Linked DNA regions of Homo sapiens. The protein of the gene in region 6 purifies or fractionates together with the protein of the main gene of each other region. This does not show direct contact. Each region holds a gene or a part of one and is shown on either strand. Other genes may lie near its edges.

Region 1 (4,961 bases), on a different chromosome or scaffold from region 6:
TGACCACAACTTCCTCACTTTGCCCTAACTTCACCCTTGAGCCTGCCCCAGACCATCTTCCCAGACTCATCCCCTGCTTTGAGCTCCTGCTCACACCTATGCCTGGCCAAGCTGAACTCCTGGTTACACTTGCGGGGCATTCCTTCATGACTCTGAATTTGCAAATGCTGTCACCTCATGAGAAGGTGTGTGAGGCTGGGTGTGGTGGCTCATGCCTGGAATCCCAGCACTTTGGGAGGCCAAGGTGAGAGGATTGTTTGAGGTCAGGAGTTTGAAACTAGCCTGGGCAATATAGTGAGACCCTATCTCTATAAAAAACAAAAAATTGGCCGGGTGCAGTGGCTCTTGCCTATAATCCCAGTAGTTTGGGAGGCCGAGGCAGGTGGATTACTGGAGGTCAGGAGTTCAAGACCAGCCTGGCCAACGTGGTGAAACCCTGTCTCTACTAAAAATACAAAATTAGCAGGGCATGGTGACATGTGCCTGTAATCCCAGCTACCCAGGAGGCTGAGGCAGGGGAATTGCTTGAACCCGGGAGGCACAGGTTGCAGTGAGCAGCGATAGTGCCATTGAACTCCAGCCTGGGCAAAAAGAGCAAAACTCTGTCTCAAAAAAAAAAAAAAAAAAAAAAAAAAAACTTATCCACATGTAGTGACATGTGCCTGTAGTCCAAGCTACTCAGGACCCCAAAGTGGGAAGACTGCTTGAGCCCAGGAGTTCACTGAGCTATGATTACGCCACTGCACTCCAGCCTGGGTGACAGAACAAGACCCAGTCTCTCTCGCTCTAAAAAACAAACAAACAAACAAACATATTGGATGACTCCCCGGTTATTCATTCCTTCTGCCTTGCAGAGCAAGCTTGTCCATCCCGCAGCCCAGGATGGCTTTGAATGCATTCCCACGCAAATTGGTAAACGTTCTTAAAACATTATGAGATCGTTTTGCAATATTTTTTTTTGGTTCATCAGCTGTTGTTAGTGTGAGTATATTTTATGTGTGGCCCAAGATAATTCTTCTTCTTCCAATGTGTCCCAGGGAGGTCAAATTATTGGACACACTTGTTGTAGAAATGTCTATTAAGTTGTATCATATACAATACAATTAACTTTTTTAGATTAAAAAATAGTCATATACTGGCAATTTTATATGGCTCAATTTCAACAGTGTTGTTATAACTATTTATTTTTTCTTATTCACTAGATTAGGCTACTTTCCTGTTAAAAGACAATAGATTTAATAAGAAGGCAAACCTAGGACCAAACCCAGCTCTACTCTAATAACTCAGTGATCTTAAGCAAGTTCCTTGACTTCCCCAAGATTTATAAAGTTCCTCATCTATAAATTGAGGATGATAATAATGTCTCCTGACAGAGTGTTGAAAGAATTAGAGGAAAATACCTGTGCAGTTCCCCAACTAGTAAACAATAGCTGCTGTGGACTAAATGGCTGTGTCCCCCCACAATTCATGCGTTGAATCCCTAATCCCTGATGTGATGGTATCTGGAGGTGAGTCTTTGTGAGTAATTAGGTCATAAGGGTAGAGACTTCATTATGGGATTAGGGCCCTTATAAGAAGAGACACAGACTATTTCTCTGCCATATGAGAATACAGTGAGAAGGCAGCCATCTGCAAGCTGGGAAGAGAGCCTTCACCAGAAGCCAACCACCAGGCACCCTGGTCTCAGACTTCCAGCCTCCAGAATCGTGAGAAATCAACAACTGTTGTCTAAGCCACCGGGTCCATGGTGTTCCAATACAGCAGTCCGAGTTGACCAAGACAGGCATCTTCACGTCGAAGGCAAAAATCAACATTTATTCATCTTTGTACTTCTATCACCCAGCTGAAGTGTTTATGGGGTTGTATTCAATTCCTTCTTATCATGACCTTGAATTCGTCAGCCTCTCCTTTTCTCCACCCCTCCCACTCTCTCAGTCAACAGCCAGCACCAAGGGGCAGCGATGTAAATGAGTGACTTTCAAAGTGGATGCCCCAGTTCCCACTTGAGCCTTCCAAGCTGGTACCACATGGAGCACAGGCGAGCTGTCACCTCTGAGCCCCACCCAAACTGTAGATTCATGAACAAACCAGCAATCATTATTGCCTTAAACCACTAAATGTAGGGGAAGTTTATTACACGCCAACAAATAATGGGATGCACAACATCAAACCCAAATCTACCCCACTGTCTAGCTTTTCTCTTAAGTCAGTAAGAGCCCCTTCTCTCTCCTTTATTTTTCTAGCTCCATTTCAAGAGTTTTTGCATGACATACTACAAGTCTATTGTTAGTAATCATAAAATTGTACTGTTTTTCCCATAACTAGGGTATATATTTGGCCTCTTTTTCCTTTAGGATTCTTTTCAAATATTCTACTCTTTTTAAGCAGCTATCGAAAAACTTTTTGATTCTTTGCCAGTGCCTTCTAGCAAATGGCTCTCAAACCCAGGAAAAGACTTAGTGTTCTATTATGATATATGTGTGGATCAATTAGCAGGTCTTAATTCATTTCATCACACAGGTAAAGAAGGCTAACCTAGGCCAAGTGTGGTGGCTCACGCCTGTAATCCCAGCACTTTGGGAGACTAAGGCAGGTGGGTCACTTGAGGTCGGGAGTTCAAGACCAGTCTGGCCAACATAGTGAAACTCCATCTCTACTAAAAATACAAAAATTAACCAGGCATGATGGTGTGTGCCTGTAATCCCAGCTACTCAGAGGCTGAGGCAGGAGAATTGCTTGAACCCAGGAGACGGAGGTTGCAGTGAGCCCAGATCACGCTACTGCACTCCTGCCTGAGTGACTCATCTCAAAATAAATAAATAAATAAATTTAAATTCAAAAACACTAATCTGGTCTTCCCTTTGGGTGTGTTTGTCATGTTAATCACCCATGGCCACTGAGTAAGCCTCTACATTTGGGAAAGGTCCATGTGATTCCATTCAGATAGACCTGTATAATCTGCTAATCCCATCCACTTGATTTGTTTGAGTGTGGCTCCAGTTAAGTATGCTAGAATGGAACATTTATTGTACCTATAACAGTTGGCTCCAAGTCCACGAAGAGTGCTCTAGGCACATGCTTCCCAGCTCTTGTCTCACAGAAGAAGGTATCGAAAGATGCATTTGTGTGCTCCATTTTTGCATTTTCCAGCTGATCCTGTTGAGTGTCAAGAACAACGCCATTTGGCTGGATTCCATGTTCCAGGCAATAGAGTTCCCAGCAGGCGTCCCCAATCTGGATGCCAGCTTGACCGATGTGGATGGAAAGGCACTCCCTCTAAAATAAGTCATGGTGAGTTGGAACTGAGCAGGTGTTTAGAAAACAGGAGATCTGTTACTCAGCCCTTCTGGTTACAAATGACAGAAACCAAGCTAGCTTAAGGCCACGGAGGAATGTGTTATAAGGATAATCAAAAGCGTTTCATGGAAACCAAGACCCAGGGTACAGCTAAGCTTCAGGGAAAATTAAACCTGGGATTTAAATTCCATTAAAAAGTTTATTTTAACAACATAAATTAAGCACCTACTCTGTACTTGGCTAAGAATTGAATTAAGACAAACACACACAATGCAAATCAAAATACAACTAATTTTACTTTATTCTTTCAATATAGGTGAGATGTGTGTGTGTGTGTGTGTGTGTGCGTGTAGTTATATATATCAAGTGGGCTTGTCTAGAAATAAAATTAGCTAGTTATTGGAAAGAAATAAAACTAAAATCAATATATAGCCTTGTCAAGTACTAAAACTCATCGCAGATAAATTTAAAATGTTATCTTTACCATTCATATGCACTCTGAATAAGGATGGATATACTAAACTTAAAACTAGTGGGAAATTTTACAAGGCAAAATGCAATAGATTTAACAGTTCCAAAATGTAAAAGTTTTATAACAAACATATAGAGATAAAAATTGATTTTATATACATCAACTTTCTAAAAAAAAACACTTAAGACATCCACTAGCTAGGCAAATGATATAAACAAACAAATTACAAAAGAAAGACTCTAAAATGCAAGGATGTAGGCTGATGGCATTCACAAGCATCACAATTCATAAGCATGAAAACCAAAAACCAATCTATTTAATCTAACCATTTATATATTGTTGAGCATTTAAAGGATGTTACATCAACACAATGACATGTTATGCAACCCTTAAACGTTTTCCCAAAAAAAAAAGATTTATGACATGGGAAATGCTTATGATAACATATTAAGTAAAAAGCACATAAGATGCATGATTGCATATAGAGTATGATGTCCAATATGTTCAAAAATAGGCATAAAAATCTAAAAGAAAATGCATCAAGATATTAAGTTTAGTAATATCTGGGTAGTGATTTTATTTTCTTGTCTAAACTTTACTATTTCTTCCACCTTCATATTCCCCCATCCCACTTTAAATCATCTTTTTTTTAAGGCAAACAACTATTCTGTTAAACAGACAATGATCTACGTTTTTAAGAGAAGGAAAGAAAAAAAATGAGAAGGAAAGTAAAAGCTAAATTCTAAGAAATCTGAGGTGATAGCAATCGCTGTTCTTAATATTGGTGTGGTTTGATTGACTGTGGTGCTGAAACAAATCTATTTAGAGGGTCTTGTAGAATGAGACCCCCATGTCTTCTGCATCATCAGGACCCTTTGGGCTGTTTGACCAGATAAGCTGAGGGGAGCCCTGCCCTTGTTCATGGCTACACTGCCCTAAAGCCTGAGATTCAACTACTGAAAGACCTCAGGCCTCCTGTCAATCCCTCACCTGTGGTCTACACAGGGGTCCCCAACCCCCGGGCCACAGACCAGTACCAGTCTGTGCCCTGTTAGGAACTGGGCTTTACAGAAGGAGGTGAGCAGCAGGTGAGTGAGCATTACTGACTGAGCTCTGCCTCCTGTCGGATCAGCGGCAGCATTAGATTCTCATAGGGGCACTAACCCTATTGTGAACTGCGCATGCAAGGGAT
Region 2 (4,961 bases), on a different chromosome or scaffold from region 6:
CGCCATCACATCTAGGAAGTGAGGAGCGTCTCTGCCCGGCCGCCCATCGTCTGAGATGTGGGGAGCGCCTCTGCCCCACCGCCCCATCTGGGATGTGAGGAGCGCCTCTGCCCGGCCGAGACCCCGTCTGGGAGGTGAGGAGCGTCTCTGCCCGGCCGCCCCGTCTGAGAAGTGAGGAGACCCTCTGCCTGGCAACCACCCCGTCTGAGAAGTGAGGAGCCCCTCCGCCCGGCAGCTGCCCCGTCTGAGAAGTGAGGAGCCTCTCCGCCCAGCAGCCACCCCATCTGGGAAGTGAGGAGCATCTCCGCCCGGCAGCCACCCCGTCCGGGAGGGAGGTGAGGGGGGGTCAGCCCCCCGCCCGGCCAGCCGCCCCATCCGGGAGGGAGGTGGGGGGTCAGCCCCCCGCCCGGCCAGCCGTGCCATCCGGGAGGGAGGTGGGGGGGTCAGCCCCCCGCCCGGCCAGCCGCCCGGTCCGGGAGGTGAGGGGCGCCTCTGCCCGGCCGCCCCTACTGGGAAGTGAGGAGCCCCTCTGCCCGGCCAGCCGCCCCGTCCGGGAGGGAGGTGGGGGGGTCAGCCCTCCGCCCGGCCAGCCGCCCCGTCTGGGAGGTGAGGGGCGCCTCTGCCCGGCCGCCCCTACTGGGAAGTGAGGAGCCCCTCTGCCCGGCCAGCCGCCCCGTCCGGGAGGGAGGTGGGGGGGTCGGCCCCCCGCCCGGCCAGCCGCCCCGTCCGGGAGGGAGGTGGGGGTGTCGGCCCCCCGCCCGGCCAGCCGCCCCGTCCGGGAGGGAGGTGGGGGGGGTCAGCTCCCCTGCCCGGCCAGCCGCCCCGTCCGGGAGGTGAGGGGCGCCTCTGCCCGGCCACCCCTACTGGGAAGTGAGGAGCCCCTCTGCCCGGCCAGCCGCCCCGTCCGCGAGGGAGGTGGGGGGGTCAGCCCCCCGCCCGGCCAGCCGCCCCGTCCGGGAGGGAGGTGGGGGGGGTCAGCCCCCCTGCCCGGCCAGCCGCCCCGTCTGGGAGGTGAGGGGCGCCTCTGCCCGGCCGCCCCTACTGGGAAGTGAGGAGCCCCTCTGGCTGGCCAGCCGCCCCGTCCGGGAGGGAGGTGGGGGGTCAGCCCCCCGACCGGCCAGCCGCCCCGTCCGGGAGGGAGGTGGGGGGGGTCAGCCCCCCGCCCGGCCAGCCGCCCCGCCCGGGAGGTGAGGGGCGCCTCTGCCCGGCCGCCCCTACTGGGAAGTGAGGAGCCCCTCTGCCCGGCCACCACCCCGTCTGGGAGGTGTGCCCAACAGCTCATTGAGAACGGGCCAGGATGACAATGGCGGCTTTGTGGAATAGAAAGGCGGGAAAGGTGGGGAAAAGATTGAGAAATCGGATGGTTGCCGTGTCTGTGTAGAAAGAAGTAGACATGGGAGACTTTTCATTTTGTTCTGCACTAAGAAAAATTCCTCTGCCTTGGGATCCTGTTGATCTGTGACCTTACCCCCAACCCTGTGCTCTCTGAAACATGTGCTGTGTCCACTCAGGGTTAAATGGATTAAGGGCGGTGCAAGATGTGCTTTGTTAAACAGATGCTTGAAGGCAGCATGCTCGTTAAGAGTCATCACCAATCCCTAATCTCAAGTAATCAGGGACACAAACACTGCGGAAGGCCGCAGGGTCCTCTGCCTAGGAAAACCAGAGACCTTTGTTCACTTGTTTATCTGCTGACCTTCCCTCCACTATTGTCCCATGACCCTGCCAAATCCCCCTCTGTGAGAAACACCCAAGAATTATCAATAAAAAAATAAATTAAAAAAAAAAAAAAAAAAAAAAGAATCTTATAACTTCCAGCTGCACGACTCCTAAACCATAATTTCTAATCTGTGGCTAATTCATTAAACCTACAAAGGCAGTCTAGTCCCCAGGCAAGAAGGGGGTTTGTTTTAGGAAAGGGCTGTTACCATCTTTGCTTTATTTTTCTATTTTTGTTTTATGAGACAGGGTCTAGTTGCCACGCAGGCTGGAGCACGATCTCGATCTTTGCTCACCGCAACCTCTGCCTCCGAGGTTTGAGTGATTTGTGCCTTAGCCTAACAGCTGGGATAACAGGTGTGCACCACCATGCCTGGTTTTTTTTTTTTGTATTTTTAGTATAGATGGGGTTTTGCCATGTTGGCCAGCCTGGTCTCAAACTCCTGGCCCCAAGTGATTTGCCCGCCTCAGCCTCCCAAAGTGCTAGGATTATAGACGTGAACCATCATGCCTGGCTCCATCTTTTTTTGGCTAGGTCAGATCTCTTTCACTGTCTCAGTTATAATTTTGCAATGGTGGTTTCAATCACAGTGTAATTAGTTGTCAAAAGCCTAACACAGACAAGGTCTGAATTTAGAGAGAGTGATGTATTTTAGCTAAAGGAGGTTTGGCACGTTTCACAGAGAAACACTTGAGACTGGCTTTGAAGAAACTGCATAAATGGACTGGATAGAGAGATTAAACACTGTATTTATTTTAGGCCAGTATGTTTACTAGTTGCCTTCATATCTAATCATGAACTTCTCGGGCAGGTGCGGTGGCTCATGCCTGTAATCCCAGCACTTTGGGGCACCAAGGTGGGCAATCACTTGAGGTCAGGAGTTCGAAACCAGCCTGGTCAACATGGTGAAACCCCCATCTCTACTAAAAATACAAAAATTAGCTGGGCATAGTGGTGTGCATGCCTGAAATCCCAGCTACTTGGGAAGCTGAGGCAGGAGGATCGCTTGAACCCGGGAGGCAGAGGTTGCAGTGCGCTGAAATTGTGCAACTGCACTCCAGCCTGGGCCACAGAGAGACTCTGTCTCAAATTTTAAAAAATAAAAGAAAAAGAAAAAGAAAAAGAAAAAAAAAACATGACCTTCTCAAAGGGGAAGTTTATCACAAATCCTTTCATTTCCCTTCCCAACCCCACATTCTGACCACATTAAATATTTTTAAGATGCTCTCTATACCTCTAAGCCTTTGCACAAGCTGATTCCTCTACTTGTGAGAGTTTCCCTCCCTTTCCATCCCCTTCAGATACTCTTTCCTAGCTAACTCCTCCCATTTTTTTTTTCAGGTTTGGTTTTTCTTTTTTTACACTGAGTCAGAACATTATTTTAATAGTTACAAAACTTTTTTTTTAACAGAATCAGTATAAAATAGCAGTTGATTTCTCCATAATTATCAGAATTATTTATATTTGAGGTCTTGCCTAAGTGGGGCTGAAATCAACAAAAGGTCTTGGACTACTGGCTCAGAAATCATCCTAGGAAGCCCGCCCTGTTGACATTTGTCATGCTTAGCTCTTATGAGATGACCCGGTCCTTTAAAAAAAAAAAAAGTATCTCCGTTTATTCTGTTTATTTGGAGGTTTGAAGTGAATTCGGCAGCATTCATTAAACTCCTTCCAGCTCCTGTCATTTATCATTCTGACTACATCCATTTCAACTTTGCCTGCTCTGTTCTGAGTTGCTTTAACAATATTAAATCGTCCAAATTCTTTTCTCTCTCTTCTCAGAGGTTTTTTACTACTGCTGAGGTCTGGGCTATATAGTTTTTTATGACTCTGTCCCTACTGGCATGAGCTGCCATCAAAGACTCAAAGTTGTTTACAGGTTTGGCTGGCATCAATCTTCCCTGCAAAGGAAGCTGTTGGAACTGTAGTGTTTAATTAATGTACTAGTCTGTATCAACTGTCCACATCACCTTGAGTAATTCCTGGAACTCGGCGAACTCCTCACAGTTCACACTGCCACTGGGTGCCACCATACTGGACTCAGGTTCACATCTTAATTGACCTCCTCTCAGAAATTTTTGTCTCTTTAAGTTCGTAAGTGCTTTGGTTATGCAGTCCCATAGGACCTTGTACTTTCCTTATAACCCTTATAAGCACCAGTTTGTCTGTTTCTTTTGCTAGAATCCTTCAAGTCAGGGACCAATACCTGCTCTGCTTGTATCCAACTCCACTGCCTGGTGCAATACCCTATATATAATATGTACACTACAAATGTTTCTTGAATACATTTAAAAGTTACATTTCTCAACAACTGAAAGCATTCTTAGGTTATTCAGTAATATTGAGTACAAAAAAATAACAATCATACAGATTTGTAGAGTTTAATCAGTAAGAAAAATGCCTAACTGTATGTACCTAAGTGCTTATTTCTTTTATGTTTCTTATATTGTACCTATGAAAAGAGAAATAACCTGAGGTCTTAGTTCCTTGCAACACAGGGGACAAAACTATTATATACCATAATCCACTTTTAAAAACTAAAAACTTCTGCAGATATAAAAGCATGTTTTCCCCTTTTTTGCCTGAATCATTTCTAAACTAAAAAATCATTTGGGAATTGTCTTTAAAAGCAAGAAAGTTGGTAGCCGGGCATGGTGGTGCACACCTGTAGTCCCAGCTCCTCAGGAGGCTGAGGCAGGAGGGCTGCTTGAGCCTGGAAAGTGGAGGTTGCGGTGAGCCATGATCCAGCCACTGCACTCCAGCCGGGGCAACAGGCAAGACCCTTGCTGAGGGACCCAACAAACAAACAAAAACAGGACATAAATCGTTTTTTAAAAATAGCAAGAAAGTTGGTAGTTTTTCTTATAATTATCTCACATCTGGCTGACTCTAATTCTCCAACAGGTCAATGGAGCAAAAGGTTTTTTTTTTTTTCTCCTTTCAGGAGGGAGGGGGTTAGTTGTCTCTTTCCTGTATATAAATCAAGAACAGAAGAAAACCTATTTCTCCGTTCTTCATCTATGATACAGACTCTGAAGCTTGTATGGATAGGGCATTTGACCTGGGTTTCAGAAAGTAGCCCCTGCGGTAAGCATCAGGGTGTGGGGAACAAAATGGTCATTATTTGCTTGAAACGACAGATGATAATCTGTCTGTGATTCCAGAATACCTTATGTGTACATTTCAGAATAAAATTAGTAAGGATTAATATTTAAAAATCCAACACATATCAGTTATTTGT
Region 3 (4,961 bases), on a different chromosome or scaffold from region 6:
AGGATGCGGCAGGAGTTAACCATCCTCCCCTTCTGTCCCTCCAGGAGGCAGGGAGGAACATCTCAGGCTGAATGCTGGCCTTCCCCAAATGGCCCACAGGGAAAGGCTGGGGAAAAGGAGCTGGATTCACTGCCCAGTACTTGTCTCATTTCCCAAGACTTTATCCAATTCTCAGCCACTGAGTAGGGTACCACCTGGGTCCTAGTGTGCTAGATAGTTTCAGGCAGGAGCCTGGGAGCAAGGGCTGTGCTGGCCCTCTTGGCTTATCAGGGGGCTTCCCTGGTCATCCTCCAGCAGCAACTGTCTTAGCGCTGGGTGGCCAGCGTCCTGGGCTTGTAGACAGGGACATCTTTGTCCCAGAGTGCAGGCTGCCCCTTGATAATGTCAGCTGCCTTCTCTGCGATCATGATTGTGGGGGCGTTCAGGTTGCCGCTGACCATGCTAGGCATGATGGAGGCATCGACGACCCTGAGGTTTTCCACCCCGAGGACCCTTGTCTGCGGATCCACCACGGCAGTGGGATCGGAGGGCTGGCCCATCTTACAGGTGCACGAGGGGTGGTAGGCGCTGTCGGCTTTTGCCCGCACAAAGGCATCTATCTCTTTATCTGACTGAATGTGGCTTCCTGGCTGGAGCTCTTTCCCTCGGAACGGAGCCAGGGCTTCCTGTGCAAAAATTTCTCTGGTGAGCTTCACACACAGACGGAAATCCTCAATATCAGTTTCTGTCGAGGAGAAGAAACAGGTGAGGACCCCTCCTTTTGCCCGTGCTGGCCTCACTGGAAGATTCACGGCATGGAGAGGCTCTGTAAGCTGTCTGAGGGGATGGTGTTTGGGGACAAAGTTCAGGGCCATGGGGGACTGAGCCAGCAGGCTGCTTGTCCCTGCCCACAGCGGGTTAGACTGTACCGTGTAGCTCAAAGGTAGCATCCTACACGGACACAGCCCACCCAGAGGCCCAGGTTTAAATCAGGGATCTGACTTATCTGTAGGGCAGGGATAAGTACACACACCCTGCCCCTGCTACAGTGGGGCTGTGAGCACCCTGCAGCCACTGCTGGGCAAAACCTGCCCAGTGGGTAGTGCTCGTTTTTGCTGCATGCAAAGAGGCAGGCCCAGGAATGGAATTTGCTTTTAGAGACTGCTCAGAGTGACAACAGGAAAAATGCTCTACCTACAGACCTGGCACCTGCATGGCGTGGTCTCCCTGCACATCATGGCAGATTGTTCTGAAAGCTGAAAATCTCCCCTACTGTCTAAACCCTGGGACTTCATTTATCTCATGTGTCCCAGGACACTACGGGGCTGCCTATGCAAGTTTACAGCCTAAAGTGACACGGTGGGGGACGACAGAGGGTCACTTGTGTCCTAGAAAGTGTAGTCCAAGGGTATGATTCAGGGATAAACAGGAACCCCACAAAGGCATTCGTTTGTTCAAGCCCAGGAAGACACAGGTGGGTGAAGTACCTGTTGACAAGTAGTTGGGCTGGATCACAGGGTGGTCTTGGGGATTGGCACTTCTCAGTTTGAGCCAGCCCACACTCGTGCCCCGCATGGGCCCCACATGTACCTAGAAGAACACAGAGGAAGCAGTGACGGTCCCTCCATAGACATCCACAGTGACCTCTGTCAACCCTGGTTTACCTGTAGGGTGGGCCTCTGCTTCCAGAATCAGTGGGGAACAGATGCATGTTAGCATTTGCCCGCATGGTACCCACCTCCACGAGTGATTACAGACCACCTCAAGGAATCACTCTTTCATCCTGGCCTCATACTCCATGGCTCAAAGCTTTCAGAGGTGGTGATCCCAGAGCCAAGTCAGCCCCTCTGTTTGTCCCATTTCTGGTGCTCGGTACCTAGCCTGCATGAAACAGTCATACCATTGGCATGCACCACGCAGACTGACACGCTGGGCAGCTGGAAGGCAGGGGACAGGCCTCTGTGTCCCCCACTCTGCAGCCATATGGCACCAGGGAGAATGCTGCCTTGGAAGATGGGAGCATCTTCCTTCCTGGTGGGAAGGAGACATCCTGGGAAGCCGAGGCTCTTCCACCTGCTCACCTGGTAAGCCTCCTGCTGGGTGGGGACCCGCCCGTGGTCAATCACTTGGGATGGCAGGAAATGGAACTGGATGTCCGGGTGGGGGACCCCAGGCTGGCTGCGGATGAACCCACCTGTTTCCAGATGGGCAGTGGCTCCCTCCCCTGAGAAGCAGAAGAGGATGAGGCAGAAGAGCCAGTCAGGCCGTGGCAGGTGGGCCGGCTGCTCCTGGTTTCCCTCCTTTCTCCTGGCCGCTCCTCTTCCTTTTCCCGGACTCCACTCTAGTGCCTGGACCCAAGTCCTGTCCACATCTGTTCACCCCTCACAGGGGGCTCACCCAGCACCACACCATAAAATGTCAGCTATTTGCCAAAAGGATGGCATCAGCTCTGCTCTCTACCAGGGCCAATTCTGCCACTGCCCATGCCACCTGCCTTACCGGCTCTTCCCACTACCTAGCACAGCACACAGCACATACTAGGTGTGTGAGAAATACAGACTGAGTGGATGGGTAGGATTTTAAACTACCATTTCCTGGCCCAGGCACAGCTAGAAATCAAATGGAAAAGGTTGAAAGATGAATGCTGATTCTGCAGTCTAGCCCCAAAGTCTCCTCTCTCCACCTTTTCTCCTGGCTCCTTGGACCTCACCTGCTGTCCAGCACAAGGCCATCCCTGCTCATCCGTAAGGAGGAGCAGCCCCTAAGCCCCGAGGAGTCTCACCTCCAGCAGGCCCTGGGCCAAGCTCCTTGGCATGTGCTATTGTTTCTGGTCCTCGCTTCAACCTGTCAGGTTGAAACTGTGCATCCCCATTTTGAAGATGGAAAAACTGAGGCTCAGGGCTAAGGTAAATGGCATAGTTCCGCATCAAACCCAGTGGCCAGAACCCCTGTTCAGCTCCTCAGGAAGGAGGTCTCAATGCTTATAGGCAGTCTCCTCCCAGGTTACTGGTAAGCGTGCTCACCTGTGAATTTCCAGAGCCACTCCAGACCAATGCAGACCTTCCGCAGGGGCTTCTGTGCTGAATGGAGGGTGATAGGGCGGGTGCATGCCTGCTGAATGTAGATCTCCAGGTGGTCTTGCAGGTTCTGGCCAACCCCTGATACGGGAAGGAGTGGTTTAGAAAATGGCTACCAAGGGGGCTCAGCTGCTTCTCAATATCCCCCCGGTTTTGAAAAATTCTTTCCTATTCCCTTATCTTCTGGACCAGCTCCTGCTCAGTTCCCTGGTCTCAGCTTAAAGGCTGCCTCCCAGAGACACTATGTGTGCACTCCTGGCCAAGTCTGGCCTGCCTCGGATGCTGCCAAGGCCACCTGTCCTTGTCACTCACTCCTACGGCAGCCTCTGGGTGCCCCTTGTCAGCCCTGCTCAGCAGCCCCCTCTGTGAGGGCAGGGCCTACGCCTTCAGCAGGCACTGCTTGGTGAGCGGTTGCTGGATGGTGATGGCCAGAGGGGCAGACAGCAGCCCCACCCTCACGCCAGCGTGGGGAAGGAGGAAGCAGCCCTGTCGTGCTACACCGTCCTTGCATGAATTCATCCAAGCCTACTGGGACACTGGGCAGGTCAACATCATGAAGCAGCACTTCCCCGGGCCCCTCATGATGAAGCCTAAAGGCACAAAGGCCTAGCCCTCCCGGAGTGGGGTTATCAAGGAGGGCAAGAGACAGAGCCCGACCCTCAAGAGCATCAGAGACAGTTTATAAAACAAAGTTTACATCTTAACATGAAGAGCAGGCTCTGGAGCACGGAGCTGACCTCATTCATGCTCAGGGCAGCCAGCGAGTCCTGTGGATGGAAGGACGAGGCCTGGACCCCTCTCGCCATAGAGCTGCCCTGGTGACACGCCCATGCCCGACCCAGTGGGGCTTCAGGGCAGATACTCCCTGCTGCAGGGTGCCCTTCTCCAAATGAAATAGGGCAGCCGGAGGAGGGAGAAGGAAAACAATGCAAGACTCGGGGCCCAGGGATGACAGTGTCCAGTGAGGCCTGGGAAACCTTCGGGCTCTCGGGGACAATGTGATAGTTCCAAGGATCACTGACTGCCACCACCTCCCCACTTCATGCTAATAAGATACATACACTAAGCCTTTTGTTGAGCAGAGACAGCCTCTGGGGAGCAGTAAAGAAGGGGACTCACCAGGTAGGTGGCACACCACAGGGATGCCCAGTTTCTTGAGGTCATCAGCATTCCCGATGCCAGAGAGCATGAGCAGCTGTGGAGAGTTGATGGCACCTCCACTCAGAATCACCTCCTTGCTGGCATAAGCCTGGAAGAGGTCCAGCCAGGTCACTCCCTGAAAAGCCAGCTGTTCTCCTGACTCACAGACCAGCGCCCTACTCTAGCCAGCACCATGAGAACACAGCCTTGGGATGTAGAATCCTGTGGCACACCCGGGACAGGCCCCAGAGCTAAGGAGAGGAAACTCACTGAGTCACTACTTGAAAGCAACCAGCAGGTGCAACTACAGCTGGACAGTAGTGACAGCCTTAGAAACAGGAGGGGAGGGCTTACACGAGATAAATGAAAGCAGGCATTCAAGTGGGTGGTTTAGAGAGAGCAAGCGGTGAACCAGATCTACACATGAAGCTGCAAAACAATCAGACCCCCTGCCAACAACACAGAAATAGAGTACAATCACATTTATGGGTTTTAAAACCTCTAGTGTAAACCTATAGCTTTAAACCTATAGCTTTCTGTGACATCGGTGCCTTGAAATGGTGTGGAAGGTACTGGGGGAGAGCTCTGAATTAGGCATGGCACACAGGGGCACTGACACCATAGGCCCTTTCTCGGTGGCAGGACTAGGGGCTTCTTCACCTCCACCAGCCCACTGCCATCAGCTACTCGCCCCTCCCCCCGCCATCACAGGGATGAGCACGTGGGTCTGGGGGTGAGGGCGTGACTCCTGCCCACTCTGAGCTG
Region 4 (4,961 bases), on a different chromosome or scaffold from region 6:
GAGGGCCCACAGGGCTGGAGGCGGGGCCTGTCAGCAGGGCGGGGCCGGTGGAAGAGGTGGGGCCTACCGGTGAGGCGGGGCCTGTGGGGCTGAAAGCAGGGGCTGTCAGTGGGGCGGGGCCTGAGAAGCTGGAGGCGGGGCCTGTCAGTGGGGTGGGGCCTGCGGGGCGGGAGGTGGGGCATGTCGGTAGGGCAGGCCCAGTGGAGGAGGTGGGGGCTGTCTGTGGGGCGGGGCCTGAGGGGGTTGGGGTCAGGGCCTGTCAGCTCACTGGGCCATGCCTAGTAGATCCACCCTTTCCCATCTACAGATGCTCGTACTTACCCAGGTTCCGGGGCACGCGCGGGGCAGCCCCCGCCTTCCAGAGAACGGCGGCTCCTCTTGCCCTCCTCAGAAGAAGGCTTTCGTCGTTCCCGCCGCCCACCAGCGCCTGGGGCTTCTTCGATGTCTCCATCCTCCAATTTCAGGGCGTTCTAGCAGAGGCGGACCAGGATGTAAGAAAGTGGTTAACGTGTATGCAGGTGGGGTGGGGCGCTGGGGACTGCGCTTCTCTCTTCCCTCTTTCCAATCCGCCTCAGAGCGTAAGGCCCGGCCCACCTCGTAGAGCACAAGCTGCGTGCGCAGGTCGACGTCAGTGCCCGCAGTGCCCAGGTGGCGCTGGACCAGCGCTTCCATGCCCTGCTGCTCCAGTGCATCCGTCACATCGTAGAAGGAGTCCTGGTCCGGGAGCGCCGCCAGCGTCTGGAGGGCGGGGATAAGAAGGCAAGGCTGAGGTTGGTGGGGAGGTCAGGAGCCTGAGCATCCCAGAGCTGGCACCCAGTCCTTGGCCACACCTTGTTGATGAGGGTGACCGTGTACACCAACAACTCAGGGTCAGCGCCATTCTTCTCCTCCAGGATGGACACCAGATTGGCCCAGGGAGGAGCACCTGCCACACAGAAAGTGGAGCAGTCATGGGGGAACAGGTAGGAGAGAGGGCTCTGAGCGGTGGGGGGAGAAAGGGACAGTCTCTGACCGGTGGTGCTGGCCACAGAGTTCACTGCACGGATGAACAGCGGTGCGTTGTTTTCGGAGTATTCTACAAACACCAACAGCAGCTTCAGGGCTGTCTTCACCACCAAGCGGGACTGAGGAGAGAGGTCAGTACATATGAGTGGGGCTTAGGCCAGACCTGTGCCAGCTGTTGCTGGGGAAGGGGAAGGGCTGCTGGGGCTGGACCCAGAGAGAATCTAGGCAGAATGACCCTGGCCCCAGGCCCAGGCACTGAAGTGCCTTATAGGCTTACAGAGGCCTCAGACTCACTCCCTTCCAGCTCACTTTGCAGAACAGGAAACTGAGGCCCAGAGAGAAGCAACAGGCAAAGGGTATAAGGCTGAGTGGAGAGCCACTTACCAGGCTGGCACACAATGTGTACAGCCACTGAATAGTGTCACTGTGGGCCACCACCCCCAGCATTCCATCCACAAAGAGCATCAGCTGGCCGAGCGCTGGGGAAACAGGGATGGGCAGAGTCAGCGAGGGTCGCTGGAGCAGAGGTCATGGGAGAGGGGCGGGGCTGACCTCTAAGGATGTAGCTCTGGTAGTTGTGGTCGGCAGCAGCACCCACACGGATCAGGCAGCTCAGCCCCTCTGAATGCACAAATTCAGGCACCAGGTCTTTGTCCTCCTAGAGGCACCATGGGGGAGTTTAGGGAAGCTTGGGCTACACACTTACCCCCAGCCCACTGCGGGGCCTCACCTGGAAGATCTGCTTCAGTGAGAAGAGGGAGCGGCGGAGCTCAGGACCACTGGAGCTATACAGCTTTTCTGCAAAAGGTAGGGTATAAAACCCTTGATGGACACAGACTCACTGTCTTCCTCTGCTTGGATACAACCACAACTCTCCACCAAAGAATAGTCTAATATATATGTTTTGGTCTGAGAGACAGGGTCTCACTCTGTCACTCAGGCTGGAGTGTGGAGTGCAGTGGCACAGTCATAGCTCACTGCAACCTCAAACTCCTAGCCTCAAGCAATTCTCCCACCTTGACCTCTCAAAGCACTGGCATTGGAGGCATGAGCTACCACGCCTGGTCTATTCTAACATTCTTGAATCCCCCTCCACTCCCACCATGGCCCTGGAAGAAGAGGTCAGGATAGGGAGAGGAAGGAGCACATACAGCTAAACCTACTTTGCTCACTGTTCAGCACAGGCCTGAAGGTGAGCCAACTGGGCTATGGGGAGGAGGTGCTGCTGGACATGGATGCTCTCACACACTCACCCAAGATAGCGTTGACCCTCACAGAGAGCTGGGTCCGAAGGATCAGCGTGGGCTTCCGCCCTTTGCTGGAATCAAGGATCTCTGTTAGCAGCTCCCAGCCTATCCCTCAGCATTCCTCCCCACAAGCCAAGGGAGCCAAAGACCTCCCCATGCCAGCCCCAGCCCAGCTTGTTCCTCCCAGCTGCTCCTCCAAGAACCCAAGGGTTGGTCGGACAAGAGGGTTGGTGCAAACACATGTATCTCAGGTATGTGGGAGAGCCCCTAACTCCCACCTTGGGCAGCAGGTAACACTGGCCAGGCTTTAGAATTCCCCTGGCACACTTCCCTGGGGCAGGAGGTGACCCATGGCTCAGGCTAGTGATCGAGTGTCTCAGCTGCTGACATTTGAGCTAGCCCCTGGCAAGGGTGGGGGTAACCTTGCCTCCCTGGCCCCATCAGTTCTGACCTGATCTCTTCATAGAAGCCCTCCAGCATCTCCCGCTGCTCTTCCAGGGACAGCTCGGTGTCCAGGTAGTATCCGGAGGGAGACACTTGCAGAGCACAATCCTCCAACTGGGGGCAAAGGGAACAGCTGTGAGACTGAGGAAGAGGTGGCAGGCGAATGTATGAAGACCCCTGACCTCTTACCTACCACTTGAAGGGTGGCAGAGAGACACAGGGTCTGCACTACAGCTGTGCATTCCTTCAGCAGTTGCTTCTCAAGCACCTACTATGTGCAAAGCCCATCTGTGTCAGGCACCAGGCTTTCTTGGCCTTTGTTTGTACCATCTCCTCTCCTGGCTGATACCTACCTATTCTTTAGGTTGCTATGCAACCCACTCCACCCTGTGTGTATGCTCCCTTTCGAGACCTTCCACACAGCATTCTAATATCCGAGCCACTGGTCTCCTCTAGCTGCGTTCTCTGCGTTCAGGCACTCCGTCTGTCTTGCTCCCTGCTGTATCTATAGAGCCTGGCATAGCACCTGACACACAGTAAGCACTCACTAGGACTTGTTGAGCTAATAAACACAGATGAGGAAGGGGAATGGAGAGAAGATGGGAGGAAGTTCCTGCCTTCGAGGAAGCTCACAGCCCTGTGGGGTGATAAGCTATAGTCACAAAGCATTAAGCCCCAGAAAGAAAGTGTTAAGATGGCTGGGAGGTGCAAACCCACCCGGGAGAGTGTGTCTGTGTGTGTGTGTGTCTCAGTGAGTAAGAGGGTGAAGACAGGGTCTGATCCATAGACTTCCCAGTCCCACCAGATTTCAGGGTCTTTGGCCTCTCCCAAAGTGGGCTACAGTTACAATGGTCCTAGCTGGACCTCAGAGACACCCAAGGGGCCTATTAAAAAACTAACTTTAGGCCAGGCGTGGTGGCTCACGCCTGTAATCTCAGCACTTTGGGAGGCTGAGGAGGGTGGATCGCCTAAGGTCAGGAGTTCTAGACCAGCCTGGCCAACGTGGTGAAACCCCGTCTCTACAAAAATGCAAAAATTAGCCAGGCATGATGGCGGGTGCCTGTAATCCCAGCTACTGCTGGGGAGGCTGAGGCAGGAGAATTGCTTGAATCCAGGAGGCAGACATTGCAGTGAGCCGAGATCATGTCATTGCACTCTAGCCTGGGAGACAGAGTGAGACTCTGTCTCAAAAAACAAAACAAAACAAAACACTTAAGAGTCTGACTCAGTCTACAGTAGGACCCCAAAGCCTGCCTTTGTAACAAGCAGGCACATGCTCCATCCACGTGTCCATGTTTCCCTCCCCGGGCTCTCCTCCCCCGCCACAAGGCATGGCACTTAGCCCCTTGAGAAGTGCCTGTAGAGAAGCCTGAGGGAGGTGACTCCTGTGAGTCGGAGGGTGGCACTCTACCTCTCCCAGACACCTCCCTCCATTGCACAGTGCAGATATGCAGGTTCAGCAAAGTCTCCTTGACTTAAGTGGCTCTGGCCCTTGAGATGCCTTGGCCCAGGGAGAGCCCACCTCTGGAGAGGCAGGGTGTCTTCTGGTCTCCATCTTACTGGGCATGTCAATTCCAACATTTGTCCTGCTGTTTGGTCAGCCCTGCCCTCTTCTGGACCCTGCCCAAGGGCTTCCAACTGGCCTTGGTCCCCTGGAGAAAAAGGGAGTCCAGCTCCTGCCTCAACCCCTACCTCTGTTTAGCAACCCTTGCGCCTGCCTCAGAGCCTGACCTGGCTCCTTCCCCACAGTTTAGCCTGTGGGGCCCTTGGATGACCCCCCCCCCCGCCCACCCCCGCCTGGGACCTGGGACATAGGACAAACACTCCAGCCTGTTCTCTGTCCCACTTCCTGCCTGGCTGCCTGCCCTCCCCAGGGTGCCTTGGGCAGGCCTGGCCACTTTCCCCTCCCTGGGAGCAGAGTCATCTTCTCCAGGGCCTACTGGGAACAGGCCTGAGAAGGGGCAGCAAGGCCTGAGGGCTGGGGTATCTTGTCCAGGGCCAGCTCAGCTGAGGGCAACCCACATTCCTCCTGATCTCTTCCCACACAGTGACTCAGCAGCCTACCACCCCACCCCCATTCAGGCACAGCCGCATCTCCCTCCCTTGGCCTGGAAGATTCTGGGACCCTAGAAGAACACACCTACCCCAGAGCCACCCCCGTCAGGGATCCCCTCGAATCACACACATATAGAACAGCTCATTCTTTGAACATTCATGACCAGGCTGGTTTCAGATGCAGAGGACCTAGGAGGAATTAGACACTGC
Region 5 (4,961 bases), on a different chromosome or scaffold from region 6:
GCTAGGGATCAGAAGTGTTTCAGATTTTTTATTTTTTTCAGATGTTTGCATTATACTTACCAGTTGAGCATCTCTAATCTGAAAATCTGAAATTTGAAATGATCTAATGAGTATTTTGTTTGTCACATTACTGCTCAAAAAGTTTTGGATTTCAGATTTTTGGATTAGAGATACTCAGCCTGTGTTATTTATCAAATGAACTGAGTTCTTTCTAAGCCATATGCAACAGGATGGGTTTCAGATTGCAACACATTGTTCTTTAGAGGACTTCAGAATGCTATGCAAAAAACATTTTAAACAGAACTAATGTGAATAGTTTTTGAAACAGTAATATACATCAGCAGAGAAGCAGAGGGGAACTAGCAGGGGAAAGAAGGCAAGATTCAACATAAAAGAAATGATTCAGATAAAATGAGCAATTTAACTCAGGTAATAGTAAGAGAATCTTTTTAAAAACAATTTATCCTTTTATTTTATTTTATTTTATTTTGTTTTATTTTTTGAGACGGAGTTTCACTCTTGTTGCCCAGGCTGGAGTGCAATGGTGCGATCTCGGCTCACTGCAACCTCCACCTCCCAGGTTCAAGCGATTCTCCTGCCTCAGCCTCCTGAGTAGCTGGGATTACAGGCATGCTTCACCGCATCCGGCTAATTTTGTATTTTTAATAGAGACGGGGTTTCTCCATGTTGGTCAGGCTGCTCTTGAACTTCCAGCCTCAGGTGATCTGCCCACCTCAGCCTCCCAAAGTGCTGGGATTACAGGCGTGAGCCACCGCACCCGGCCAATTTTTCCTTTTTTTAAAAAAAAATTATCGTAGTAAAAAACATGTAATTCTGGACTGCTCCCCATAGGGTTACCACCTCTTAGAAATTGTCCTCTAATGAAGGTGACTGGAATGTTTTCTCTGCTCATACTGTAGTATTATAAATACATGTAGTCATTTGTACAAAAATTCTTCTAAGCCCTAGCTGCTGACTAAAAGCACTATATGAAGTTAGGAAATTTTAGAATGAAAGAATCTGGCTAGTCCCTTGAATTTGTAATGAGATTGACTGCTCTGTGTTACATGCCTGCCTTGTAGTTGTTTCCCCCATTGTCTGTCAAAGTGGAGAGTAATCCCAGATGGTTTGCATGGGAGGGCTACAAAGGGAGATGATCCTCAGGGACTCAGAGGAAGTATCTAAACACTGGTCATGCGTTATCTGAAGCCCACGTAACAGTTTCTTCAATAGTATTATCTTCAACTACTCTCTATAATGCTATCTGATAATATATCTAAATCTCTTCACGCACATTTTTTAAGAATGGCTTTTTTTACTGTGTGTTTCTGACTACTAAACTGAGTAGTCTTCATTTCTGTTATAGGAACTCCATGCTCCACTGACTGTTGTTGCAGATGGGCTTTTCTCCAAGTTCAGGAAAAGCCTGGTCTCCAATAAAGTTTCTGTATCATCTCATTTTGTTGGCTTTCTTATGAAGGTACTGTAGGAGTGTGTTATTGTAATTTCAATAAAAGAAACTTGAAATTTGAAAATTATTAAAACATTTTCTTTTTATTTGTTTTAGAATGCACCACAGTTTAAAGCAAATCATGCTGAACTTATTTTAGCTAACCCGAGTCCAGTTCTCATCTACCAGATTTCATCCAGTGAAACTCGAGTACTTGTTGACATTAGAGGAGAAATGCCAAGGAATTTAAGAGAATACATGGTTGAAAAAATTTACCCACAAATACCTGGTAAGAAATAGCATCTTCAGTTCTTACAAAGGCTGTGTCTAAAATAGGCCAGAGATAAGGATGGCAGGTGAAACATTCATCCAGTCAACCAGATATTCTGGAACTGAACTATTTAAACTAGCACTTAAAAACAGCAAAACAAACTCCCAAATTAATAAAAAAAAGTTTCGGGCCGGGCACAGTAGGTCATGCCTGTAATCCCACCACTTTGGGAGGCTGAGGTGGGCAGATCACCTGAGGTTGGGAGTTCAAGACCAGCCTGACCAACATGGAGAAACCCCGTCTCTACTAAAAATACAAAATTAGCCGAGTGTGGTGGTGCATGCCTGTAATCCCAGCTACTCAGGAGGCTGAGGCAGAAGAATCGCTTGAACGGGAGGCAGAGGTTGTAGTGAGCCGAGATCGTGCCATTGCACTCCAGCCTGGGCAACAAGAGCGAAACTCCGTCTCAAAAAAAAAAAAAAGTTTTGATATGTTTTTGTCACATAATAGCATAGTTTTTAGAATAATTGTTTTTATTGGCATATATGGTATTTTTAAAGGTAGTCTCTGGACACGAATCTGACTCTGAATTCTTTATCTCTTATACCTAAATATTTTTGTGCTTGGTTTTTGTAGTAATGACAGCTACCATTTCTTGAATGCTTACTATAAAGTGTTTAGCAAACATAATTTCATTTAATCTATGTAACCACTCTGTGAGGTAGGCATTATCATTATTCTCATTTTACAGATGGGAGAACTAAGGTTCAGAGAGATTAGTTAGCTCCTCCAAGTATAAACTATTAGTAATGGCAGAACCAGGGTTGATATCAGGTCTGTCTGGCTCATATGTGCCTGTTTGAACAGACATGTCCTGTCCGCAGAATGTGAGAATTGTAAGGGATCTTCAGGATCATGTTAGTTTTGAGTTGAATATAAAGGCTTCATGAGATTTAGATAGCTTTGTAAAAACATTAATAAAAATTACTTTTTCACAAATCTAAAGTTTTCATGGTACAGTTTTTAGGATCTTTTTTTGAGAATGGGATGATATAGGAAAGAAAAGTAAAAAAAATTTAAGAATTTTGATAAAATTGAAGGGAAACCCTCATTGTCAATTATGATATGATTAGAGTAATAGGAAACTATTTTTGGTATGAGTACATTTTGTTTAAATATTCCGTTTTTTTCAAGTTATTTTTTAAACTAAGTGAAACCACTTTAGTAACAAATTATTAACAGAAATGAAGTGAAATGAAGTGGGCAAACTTAGATTTTAAATAATGACATTTTCAACATGTACATGGAAACATTTCAATAAATTTTCATTTAGTTAAGCCACTTTTGAAGCTTTCAGATGGGGAAATTATGAATATTTATGAAAAGGGTCATCCATTACCTGATATTTTTAGCATTTATTTTTCTTTTATTGTAAATGTGGTGGTTTTTCTTTTTTTTTTCTTTTTTCCAATCCAGAGGTTAATTGGAGTAGAGTGCCCTGAAATTATGGAGAGAAACCATTGGTAGGTTTATATTAATATTAGTTAGATTACCAAAATTCTACTCCTTAATATGAATGGAATAATTTTTAACAGAGGCTTCTGCTCCTCTATTCCCAGATCACACTGGGAATTGTATGACAGTTCATTTTCTATATAAGTAGCACAGAAATTTAAAGCTTGTTTGGAAGTATCTCAGAGATGAGCTGATCAAACCATTTCATTTTTATAGATGAAGAAATTGAAGCTCAGAGAGGTAGGGCTGGCCTCGAATTCCTTTTCTAGTGTACATACCCTCCTGCTGTTTGTGAATTGGTAGTGTATTTCATCTGATTATTACAAGAATATATTGATTATAATACATTAAATATTAAATATGACAGTAGTCTGTTAACATTTGGAAGAAAGGTAGGTGGTTTTCTCCCTGTTTCATTTCATCTGAATTTGCCTCATTGTTTTTTCATTCAGTTGTATGTATGTTTATATTAATGTTCTCTTAGATTCCTTAGTCATTCCTTGGCATTAACAGCTAAGTGCTTAATGAATAATTTTATTAATGAAATAATTAGTTCTTGATTTATCACAAGGGATATATGTAACAACCATAACAGATGTATAGTAGGCATTTGTTTATACTTGATAAGAAAATATGTGATACTTTGAAATTGAAGTGTTATGACCCATTTCTTTGGGTTGGTGGGATTTATTGCAGATCACCTGAAAGAACCATTCTTAGAAGCCACTGACAATTCTCATCTGAGGTCCATGCCAGCAAGCTTCCTTCCTCCTTCATCAGTGAAGAAACGAGGTATTATTTTTTGGGCTTATTTTATAAAGGAATCAGTATTCCAAATGACAAATATATGATTAAATTTATACTGTTACGAATAACTTCTGGGACAGATAGTTTGTCACTGTGGATTAGTGCATTATTAATACCAAAATTAGTTTTATGATCTATTTAGTTGTTAACATTGAGTGTATACAAGTATTGTGCTAGTCAGGGAAACAACAGGTAAAAAACTGACCTTGACCTAGAGAAGGCAATTTTCTACTTAGGAATGTAGACAGATAATTTTACAACACTGTTGATAAATAAAACCCACAGATTCAGTGTCAAGAAGTGTGCAGAGCAGGGAGGGAAGCTTGTGAAATGGGAGGGGTAGTTAGGGAGGACGTTGTTCAGGAAACAGTGGAAACAAAGGACCTTGGACCTGGAGGATGAGTGGGAGTTCATGAGGTGGACACTAAGATGAGGAACTTCTAGGTAGATGGAATAACATTGCCAAAGGATGAGAAATGGTGGCACTTTCAAGGAACTCAAGCAGTTTCCTATGGCAGGAGCATAGGGTGGGTGTCAGAGTGGGAGACAGACCATTAACATTTAATCTTACAGACAATGGAAAGTCATTTGAAGTGTTTTCTTGTTACTAACTTTATTGATATATAATTCACAAATCAGTTTGCCCATTTAAAGTGTACAGTACAGTGACTTTTTTAGTATATTCACAGTGTGTGCATCACCACCACAATCAAATTTAGAACATTTTTATCTTGCCCAAAGAAACCCCGTACCCATTGGTATTCACTCCCCATTTCCTCCCAACACTCAGCCCTAGGCTACCCCTAATTTACTTTCTGTGTCTAGATTTGTCTATTTGGGATGTTTCCTAAAGGCATTGTATAGTAAAGCCCTTTGGAACTGGCTTTTCATTTAGCACAATGTTTTTGAGGTTCATTC
Region 6 (4,108 bases):
CAGCTCTACCTCTAAATCATAATTTTAAAATAAATTTTATCTTATTTTTGGTGATATTGAAAAAGATATTCTAGAAATCACCACCATTGAGCATTCTTGTAAAAATAGATTACTCCTTAGCATCAAAAGCAGTCTCTTGAAAGTTTAATATTATATGTTTCAGTGTAACATAATCTTACTGGGAGTGTGTTGAATACACCAGAACTTTTTGAATTGTGTGCTGAATGATGTACATAGTCTAGAAGAAAAAAGCCCAAGTCTTGTGCACATTTAAATCGTGTACATAAGTATTTCCGTATTTCAGTAAAGTAGATAAAGCACTCGTTAAATAGCATTGTTTACATCGACCAAATATTGCCTGTTTCCTTTAATTCAAATGCATTAGGTTCCCGCCTCCCTCTCCTTCCCCGCCATGTTGCTGTTTTAAGGCTTCATATGTATTAACATTTCTCTGATCAAAATTGTGGCTGTTTTCCTTATGAACCATAATATAATCATTTGTGTGATGTACATTGTGCCATTTTTGATGACTAAATGTCTATATTTCTGCCATTCCTGTAAGAGAGGGAGTTTTTTACTGATAGTAGCAAATGTTCACTTCAGTCAAACTTGGGTGTTCAGTGGTAAACCATATAGTATTTAGACTGGTAAAAATAGTTTGCACACAGGAATAGCCTCTGATTTTTAGCTCTCTTGTAATCCAAGTATCATTGTTCATGGAATTCTCTAGGTCATTTTTATTGTGTTGTTCTAACAAGACAGATTATTGCTACAACAATAGTTACAAGATATTTCTAAAATATCCTTTGATTTTTACTCTAAGTATGGTAGAGTAAGAGGCTAAACAAGAAGCTGTTTCCTTGAAGACATTGCTTTCAGTCACCATACATGTCTAAATAATTTAGCTTATCATTCATTCTATGTAGGAATGAGATAAGAAAGGATATGATGGCAGGAAAAGAAATGCTATTCATTTTTTATACTTTAGTTTTATTTTCTTAGGATCTATATCCTATATATATATATTTTTTAAAGCACTAATTTATTGCAGTCTTTATTTTAGAAAAATGTGAAGCATTTTTTTCTCCCCTAAAATGAATATATTTAGATGACAAGTCTTTAGTGCTGGTAGAGGAACTAATTGATTTTGTACTATAGTAGGAAAGTGTTTATATGTTTCACCAGAAATAAAATATGTAGGGTTTGTATGTAATCTTCTGTGTTTATCCTATGTTGATTTACCTTAAATTTGCAACATACATATCCACATAAATATTCATGACTTTCTTATATTTCATTAAAATGTTTTATGGCTTCTTAAAATCATCACTGTGCTTCTAAATATTTTTACGTAAAATCATTGTATAATGCTATACTGTGATATACATGAAAGTTTATCTTGAACAGTGCTCTTTAACAATATTAAATTTAAATTTATCTTGGTTTTGCTATGCTTATGGGTAATTCATAGAAAACAGAAAAAATACTGTTCCCAAAAGGCAGTTATATATTTCAGTTTAATATCACCTATAAGTATGAGAAAGGTTTCCATGTCTCCTACCCCTCACTGCACTTAGGAAAATTCTTATTTATGAATAAAGTAAGATAAGTAAATCTAATTGCCTAGTCGTTTTTTTAACACATATACATGCAATGTATCTGGATGAATAGAAGGCTGAATTGAAGCTTTCTTTATATTTAAGAGGTAAAAAGAAATATTAATACTTTTAAAATATACTAACAACCAAAAAGTGTTCAGAATTTTGCTATAATAATAATTTGTATTAAAATAGTACCTAGAAAAATTCAGTCTATGGAATAGGTAAAATTTTAAAATTTTAATTTGCTCTCAGAGTTCTGTCTGATAAAATAATTGAACTATAATTGGCATGATGAATATTCCCAGGTTTTACTTCAGTATATAAATTTAACTCTCAGCCACATGGGCTTTCCAGACTTTTCAATACATATGATGTTGCAGGAATTGCAATATTTGCAAACATGTGCCACAACAGTGTTCTTGGTGATGTTTCTAAAACAGTTTTTATTCTATTAATGTTAAATTTTCTAACATAAACATTTAATTGATTAATGTAAAATTTTAGGAAGGAACATCTTTAATTTTCAATATGAGATGGTTGCAACCTTTAAAGTAGTACATATTTGATTTTTTTTAAAAGGCAATATTTTTTTTTCTAGGAAAACTATTCATTATGGTTATTTAACTGCATATGTTTTTTAAATTTTTCCCTCTTGGAACAACATGTACTGGGGCCTATCAAAGGGTGGAGGGTGGGAGGAGGGAGAGGAACAGGAAAAATAACTAATGGGTACTAGGCTTAATACCTGGGTGATGAAATAATCTGTATAATAAATCCCCATGACACAAAAGTTTACCTGTGTAACAAACCTGCATATGTACCCCTAAACTTAAATTCTTCCCTCTTTTTGTCTTGGGCACAAGTTTTTGGGATATGGAAAAGTTTATTGTATCCCTTTTGAATTTTCTTCTAAGATGAACTTTTTAAATAAAAGATATTACTGCTTTTATATTTAATCTGTCAACATTTATTGGGACATTTTATGTAGTAGGCAGTATATAAAAAGCACTGGAGATGATAAGATATTTCAGATATTGTTACTGGCCACAGGAGGTTTCAGAGCTATGATTGAGTGATTGATAGAAACATACAAAGGGAGTCATGGGAAATATGGGGAGTTGTTCACTCAGCCTGGGGGCAGAGAAGGGGAGTGGTCAGGAAACCTGAGTTGGACTGACAGACAGGCAATCCAATAAGTAAACATGCAGGGAAGTGGGAGTCTCAATAAGGCAATAGAATTTAGTCCATATGGCTTGAACAAAGTGTATACATGGGAAAGTGTAAACATGGAAATGTAATCTAAGGCCTTGTGCGCTTAAGGAGGAACAAGAAGGCTGTGAGAAACCTAGGAAAAACTTTTTGGCAAAGTTGTAACAGTTAGTTAGACTTGGGTTTTGGAAGATACCCAGCAGTATGGAAAATGGGGCTTATGATAAGGTGATCTATGTTAAAATCTAAAAGTTTTGGTTTGTATTAAAATATGCTTTTTAAATGTACCATAATGAAAAAGAGGTAATTTTAGCTTCCCTTTCCTATCAATCAGTTAAAATGACAAATGCTAAAACTAAATCGAAGCTGCTTTGCTTTCAGAAGAGCAGAATGAACAACAGTCTTGTGACACTTAAGTGGTAATCCAATATGTTAGTTTAGTTTAGCAAAATCTGCACATTTCATCTAATGATAGGAACTTTAACAAAGCAGTTTTCTAAGTTGTAAATTTGGGACACATTGATAACCACTTAAAACTGTATGTAAATCTAATGATTTAACAACTAACTTATGATCTACTTTTTCTGCCACTCATAATTAGTAGTAGCTTGCATTTGGCATTTATCTCTTTAGAACTTCTTTTATATATGATTTTATTTAATGCTTACATCATCCTGATGCCATCTCTTAGGTGCCAAGAAGATAGTGATGATTCTTACAGGTGAGAAAACAAACATGACTATTTTATAATTAAATCAGTAACACTGCCAGAACCACTACTAAACTGTACTGATTGATTGAATAGATGTTGTGTATTCTAAAGCATATCATGTTACTTTTAAAAAATAGGATATTTAACTTGATGTGAGTTGAAATAAGGATTTCTCCCATTCCATTTTCATGTTAGTATTTTAGGTGTGAAATAATATATATTTACCACATTTGCTGAAACAAAAGTTAAGTGTACTTAAATCAGGTAACTTTTTGTCAAGCAAAATAAGACCACCAATGCATAGTACAAAATTTTTAATATACATGCAACAAGTATAGTACGCATCAAGGCAACAGAATACACATGGAAATATTGGCGTATAATTCAGCATTCTTTTGGAGGCAAGAGGGAGGGTGAACAATAAACACTACCACCTAAAATTAAAGATTGAGACATACATGGTTTCCTCATGCAAACAGTAACAAACTACCTTTAGTGTGAAACGAACTCTGTAGAAACCTGATTTTATAACAGCAGATGAATTTTATACCAAGATCTCCAAGAAAGGAGGAAAAGTCATGATCCT

Evidence for each region.
Region 1: the proteins of SLC25A40 (region 6) and TUBAL3 purify together in Homo sapiens (co-immunoprecipitation; one large-scale study listed by IntAct). This does not show direct contact.
Region 2: the proteins of SLC25A40 (region 6) and HIGD1A purify together in Homo sapiens (co-immunoprecipitation; one large-scale study listed by IntAct). This does not show direct contact.
Region 3: the proteins of SLC25A40 (region 6) and CHDH purify together in Homo sapiens (affinity purification with mass spectrometry; one large-scale study listed by BioGRID and IntAct). This does not show direct contact.
Region 4: the proteins of SLC25A40 (region 6) and FHOD1 purify together in Homo sapiens (co-immunoprecipitation; one large-scale study listed by IntAct). This does not show direct contact.
Region 5: the proteins of SLC25A40 (region 6) and SQLE purify together in Homo sapiens (co-immunoprecipitation; one large-scale study listed by IntAct). This does not show direct contact.

What each region holds. Positions count from the first base shown.
Region 1 is NC_000010.11:5,397,812-5,402,772, forward strand, and holds part of TUBAL3 (tubulin alpha chain-like 3), read right to left. Parts: intron 3,277-4,961; coding exon 3,033-3,276; intron 1-3,032. UniProt on the Homo sapiens protein: Tubulin is the major constituent of microtubules, a cylinder consisting of laterally associated linear protofilaments composed of alpha- and beta-tubulin heterodimers.
Region 2 is NC_000003.12:42,797,520-42,802,480, forward strand, and holds part of HIGD1A (HIG1 domain family member 1A, mitochondrial), read right to left. Parts: intron 1-4,961. UniProt on the Homo sapiens protein: Proposed subunit of cytochrome c oxidase (COX, complex IV), which is the terminal component of the mitochondrial respiratory chain that catalyzes the reduction of oxygen to water. May play a role in the assembly of respiratory supercomplexes.
Region 3 is NC_000003.12:53,817,472-53,822,432, forward strand, and holds part of CHDH (choline dehydrogenase, mitochondrial), read right to left. Parts: intron 4,306-4,961; coding exon 4,176-4,305; intron 3,138-4,175; coding exon 3,003-3,137; intron 2,204-3,002; coding exon 2,061-2,203; intron 1,570-2,060; coding exon 1,467-1,569; intron 725-1,466; coding exon 306-724; 3' UTR 1-305.
Region 4 is NC_000016.10:67,236,645-67,241,605, forward strand, and holds part of FHOD1 (FH1/FH2 domain-containing protein 1), read right to left. Parts: intron 2,811-4,961; coding exon 2,704-2,810; intron 2,324-2,703; coding exon 2,259-2,323; intron 2,242-2,258; exon of another isoform or gene 2,169-2,241; intron 1,804-2,168; coding exon 1,736-1,803; intron 1,664-1,735; coding exon 1,558-1,663; intron 1,485-1,557; coding exon 1,390-1,484; intron 1,125-1,389; coding exon 1,013-1,124; intron 926-1,012; coding exon 831-925; intron 739-830; coding exon 595-738; intron 471-594; coding exon 322-470; intron 90-321; coding exon 1-89. UniProt on the Homo sapiens protein: Required for the assembly of F-actin structures, such as stress fibers. Depends on the Rho-ROCK cascade for its activity. Contributes to the coordination of microtubules with actin fibers and plays a role in cell elongation.
Region 5 is NC_000008.11:125,007,605-125,012,565, forward strand, and holds part of SQLE (squalene monooxygenase), read left to right. Parts: intron 1-1,366; coding exon 1,367-1,480; intron 1,481-1,567; coding exon 1,568-1,739; intron 1,740-3,932; coding exon 3,933-4,028; intron 4,029-4,961. UniProt on the Homo sapiens protein: Catalyzes the stereospecific oxidation of squalene to (S)-2,3-epoxysqualene, and is considered to be a rate-limiting enzyme in steroid biosynthesis.
Region 6 is NC_000007.14:87,832,010-87,836,117, reverse strand, and holds the end of SLC25A40 (mitochondrial glutathione transporter SLC25A40), read left to right. Parts: 3' UTR 1-2,550; downstream 2,551-4,108. UniProt on the Homo sapiens protein: Probable mitochondrial transporter required for glutathione import into mitochondria. Glutathione, which plays key roles in oxidative metabolism, is produced exclusively in the cytosol and is imported in many organelles.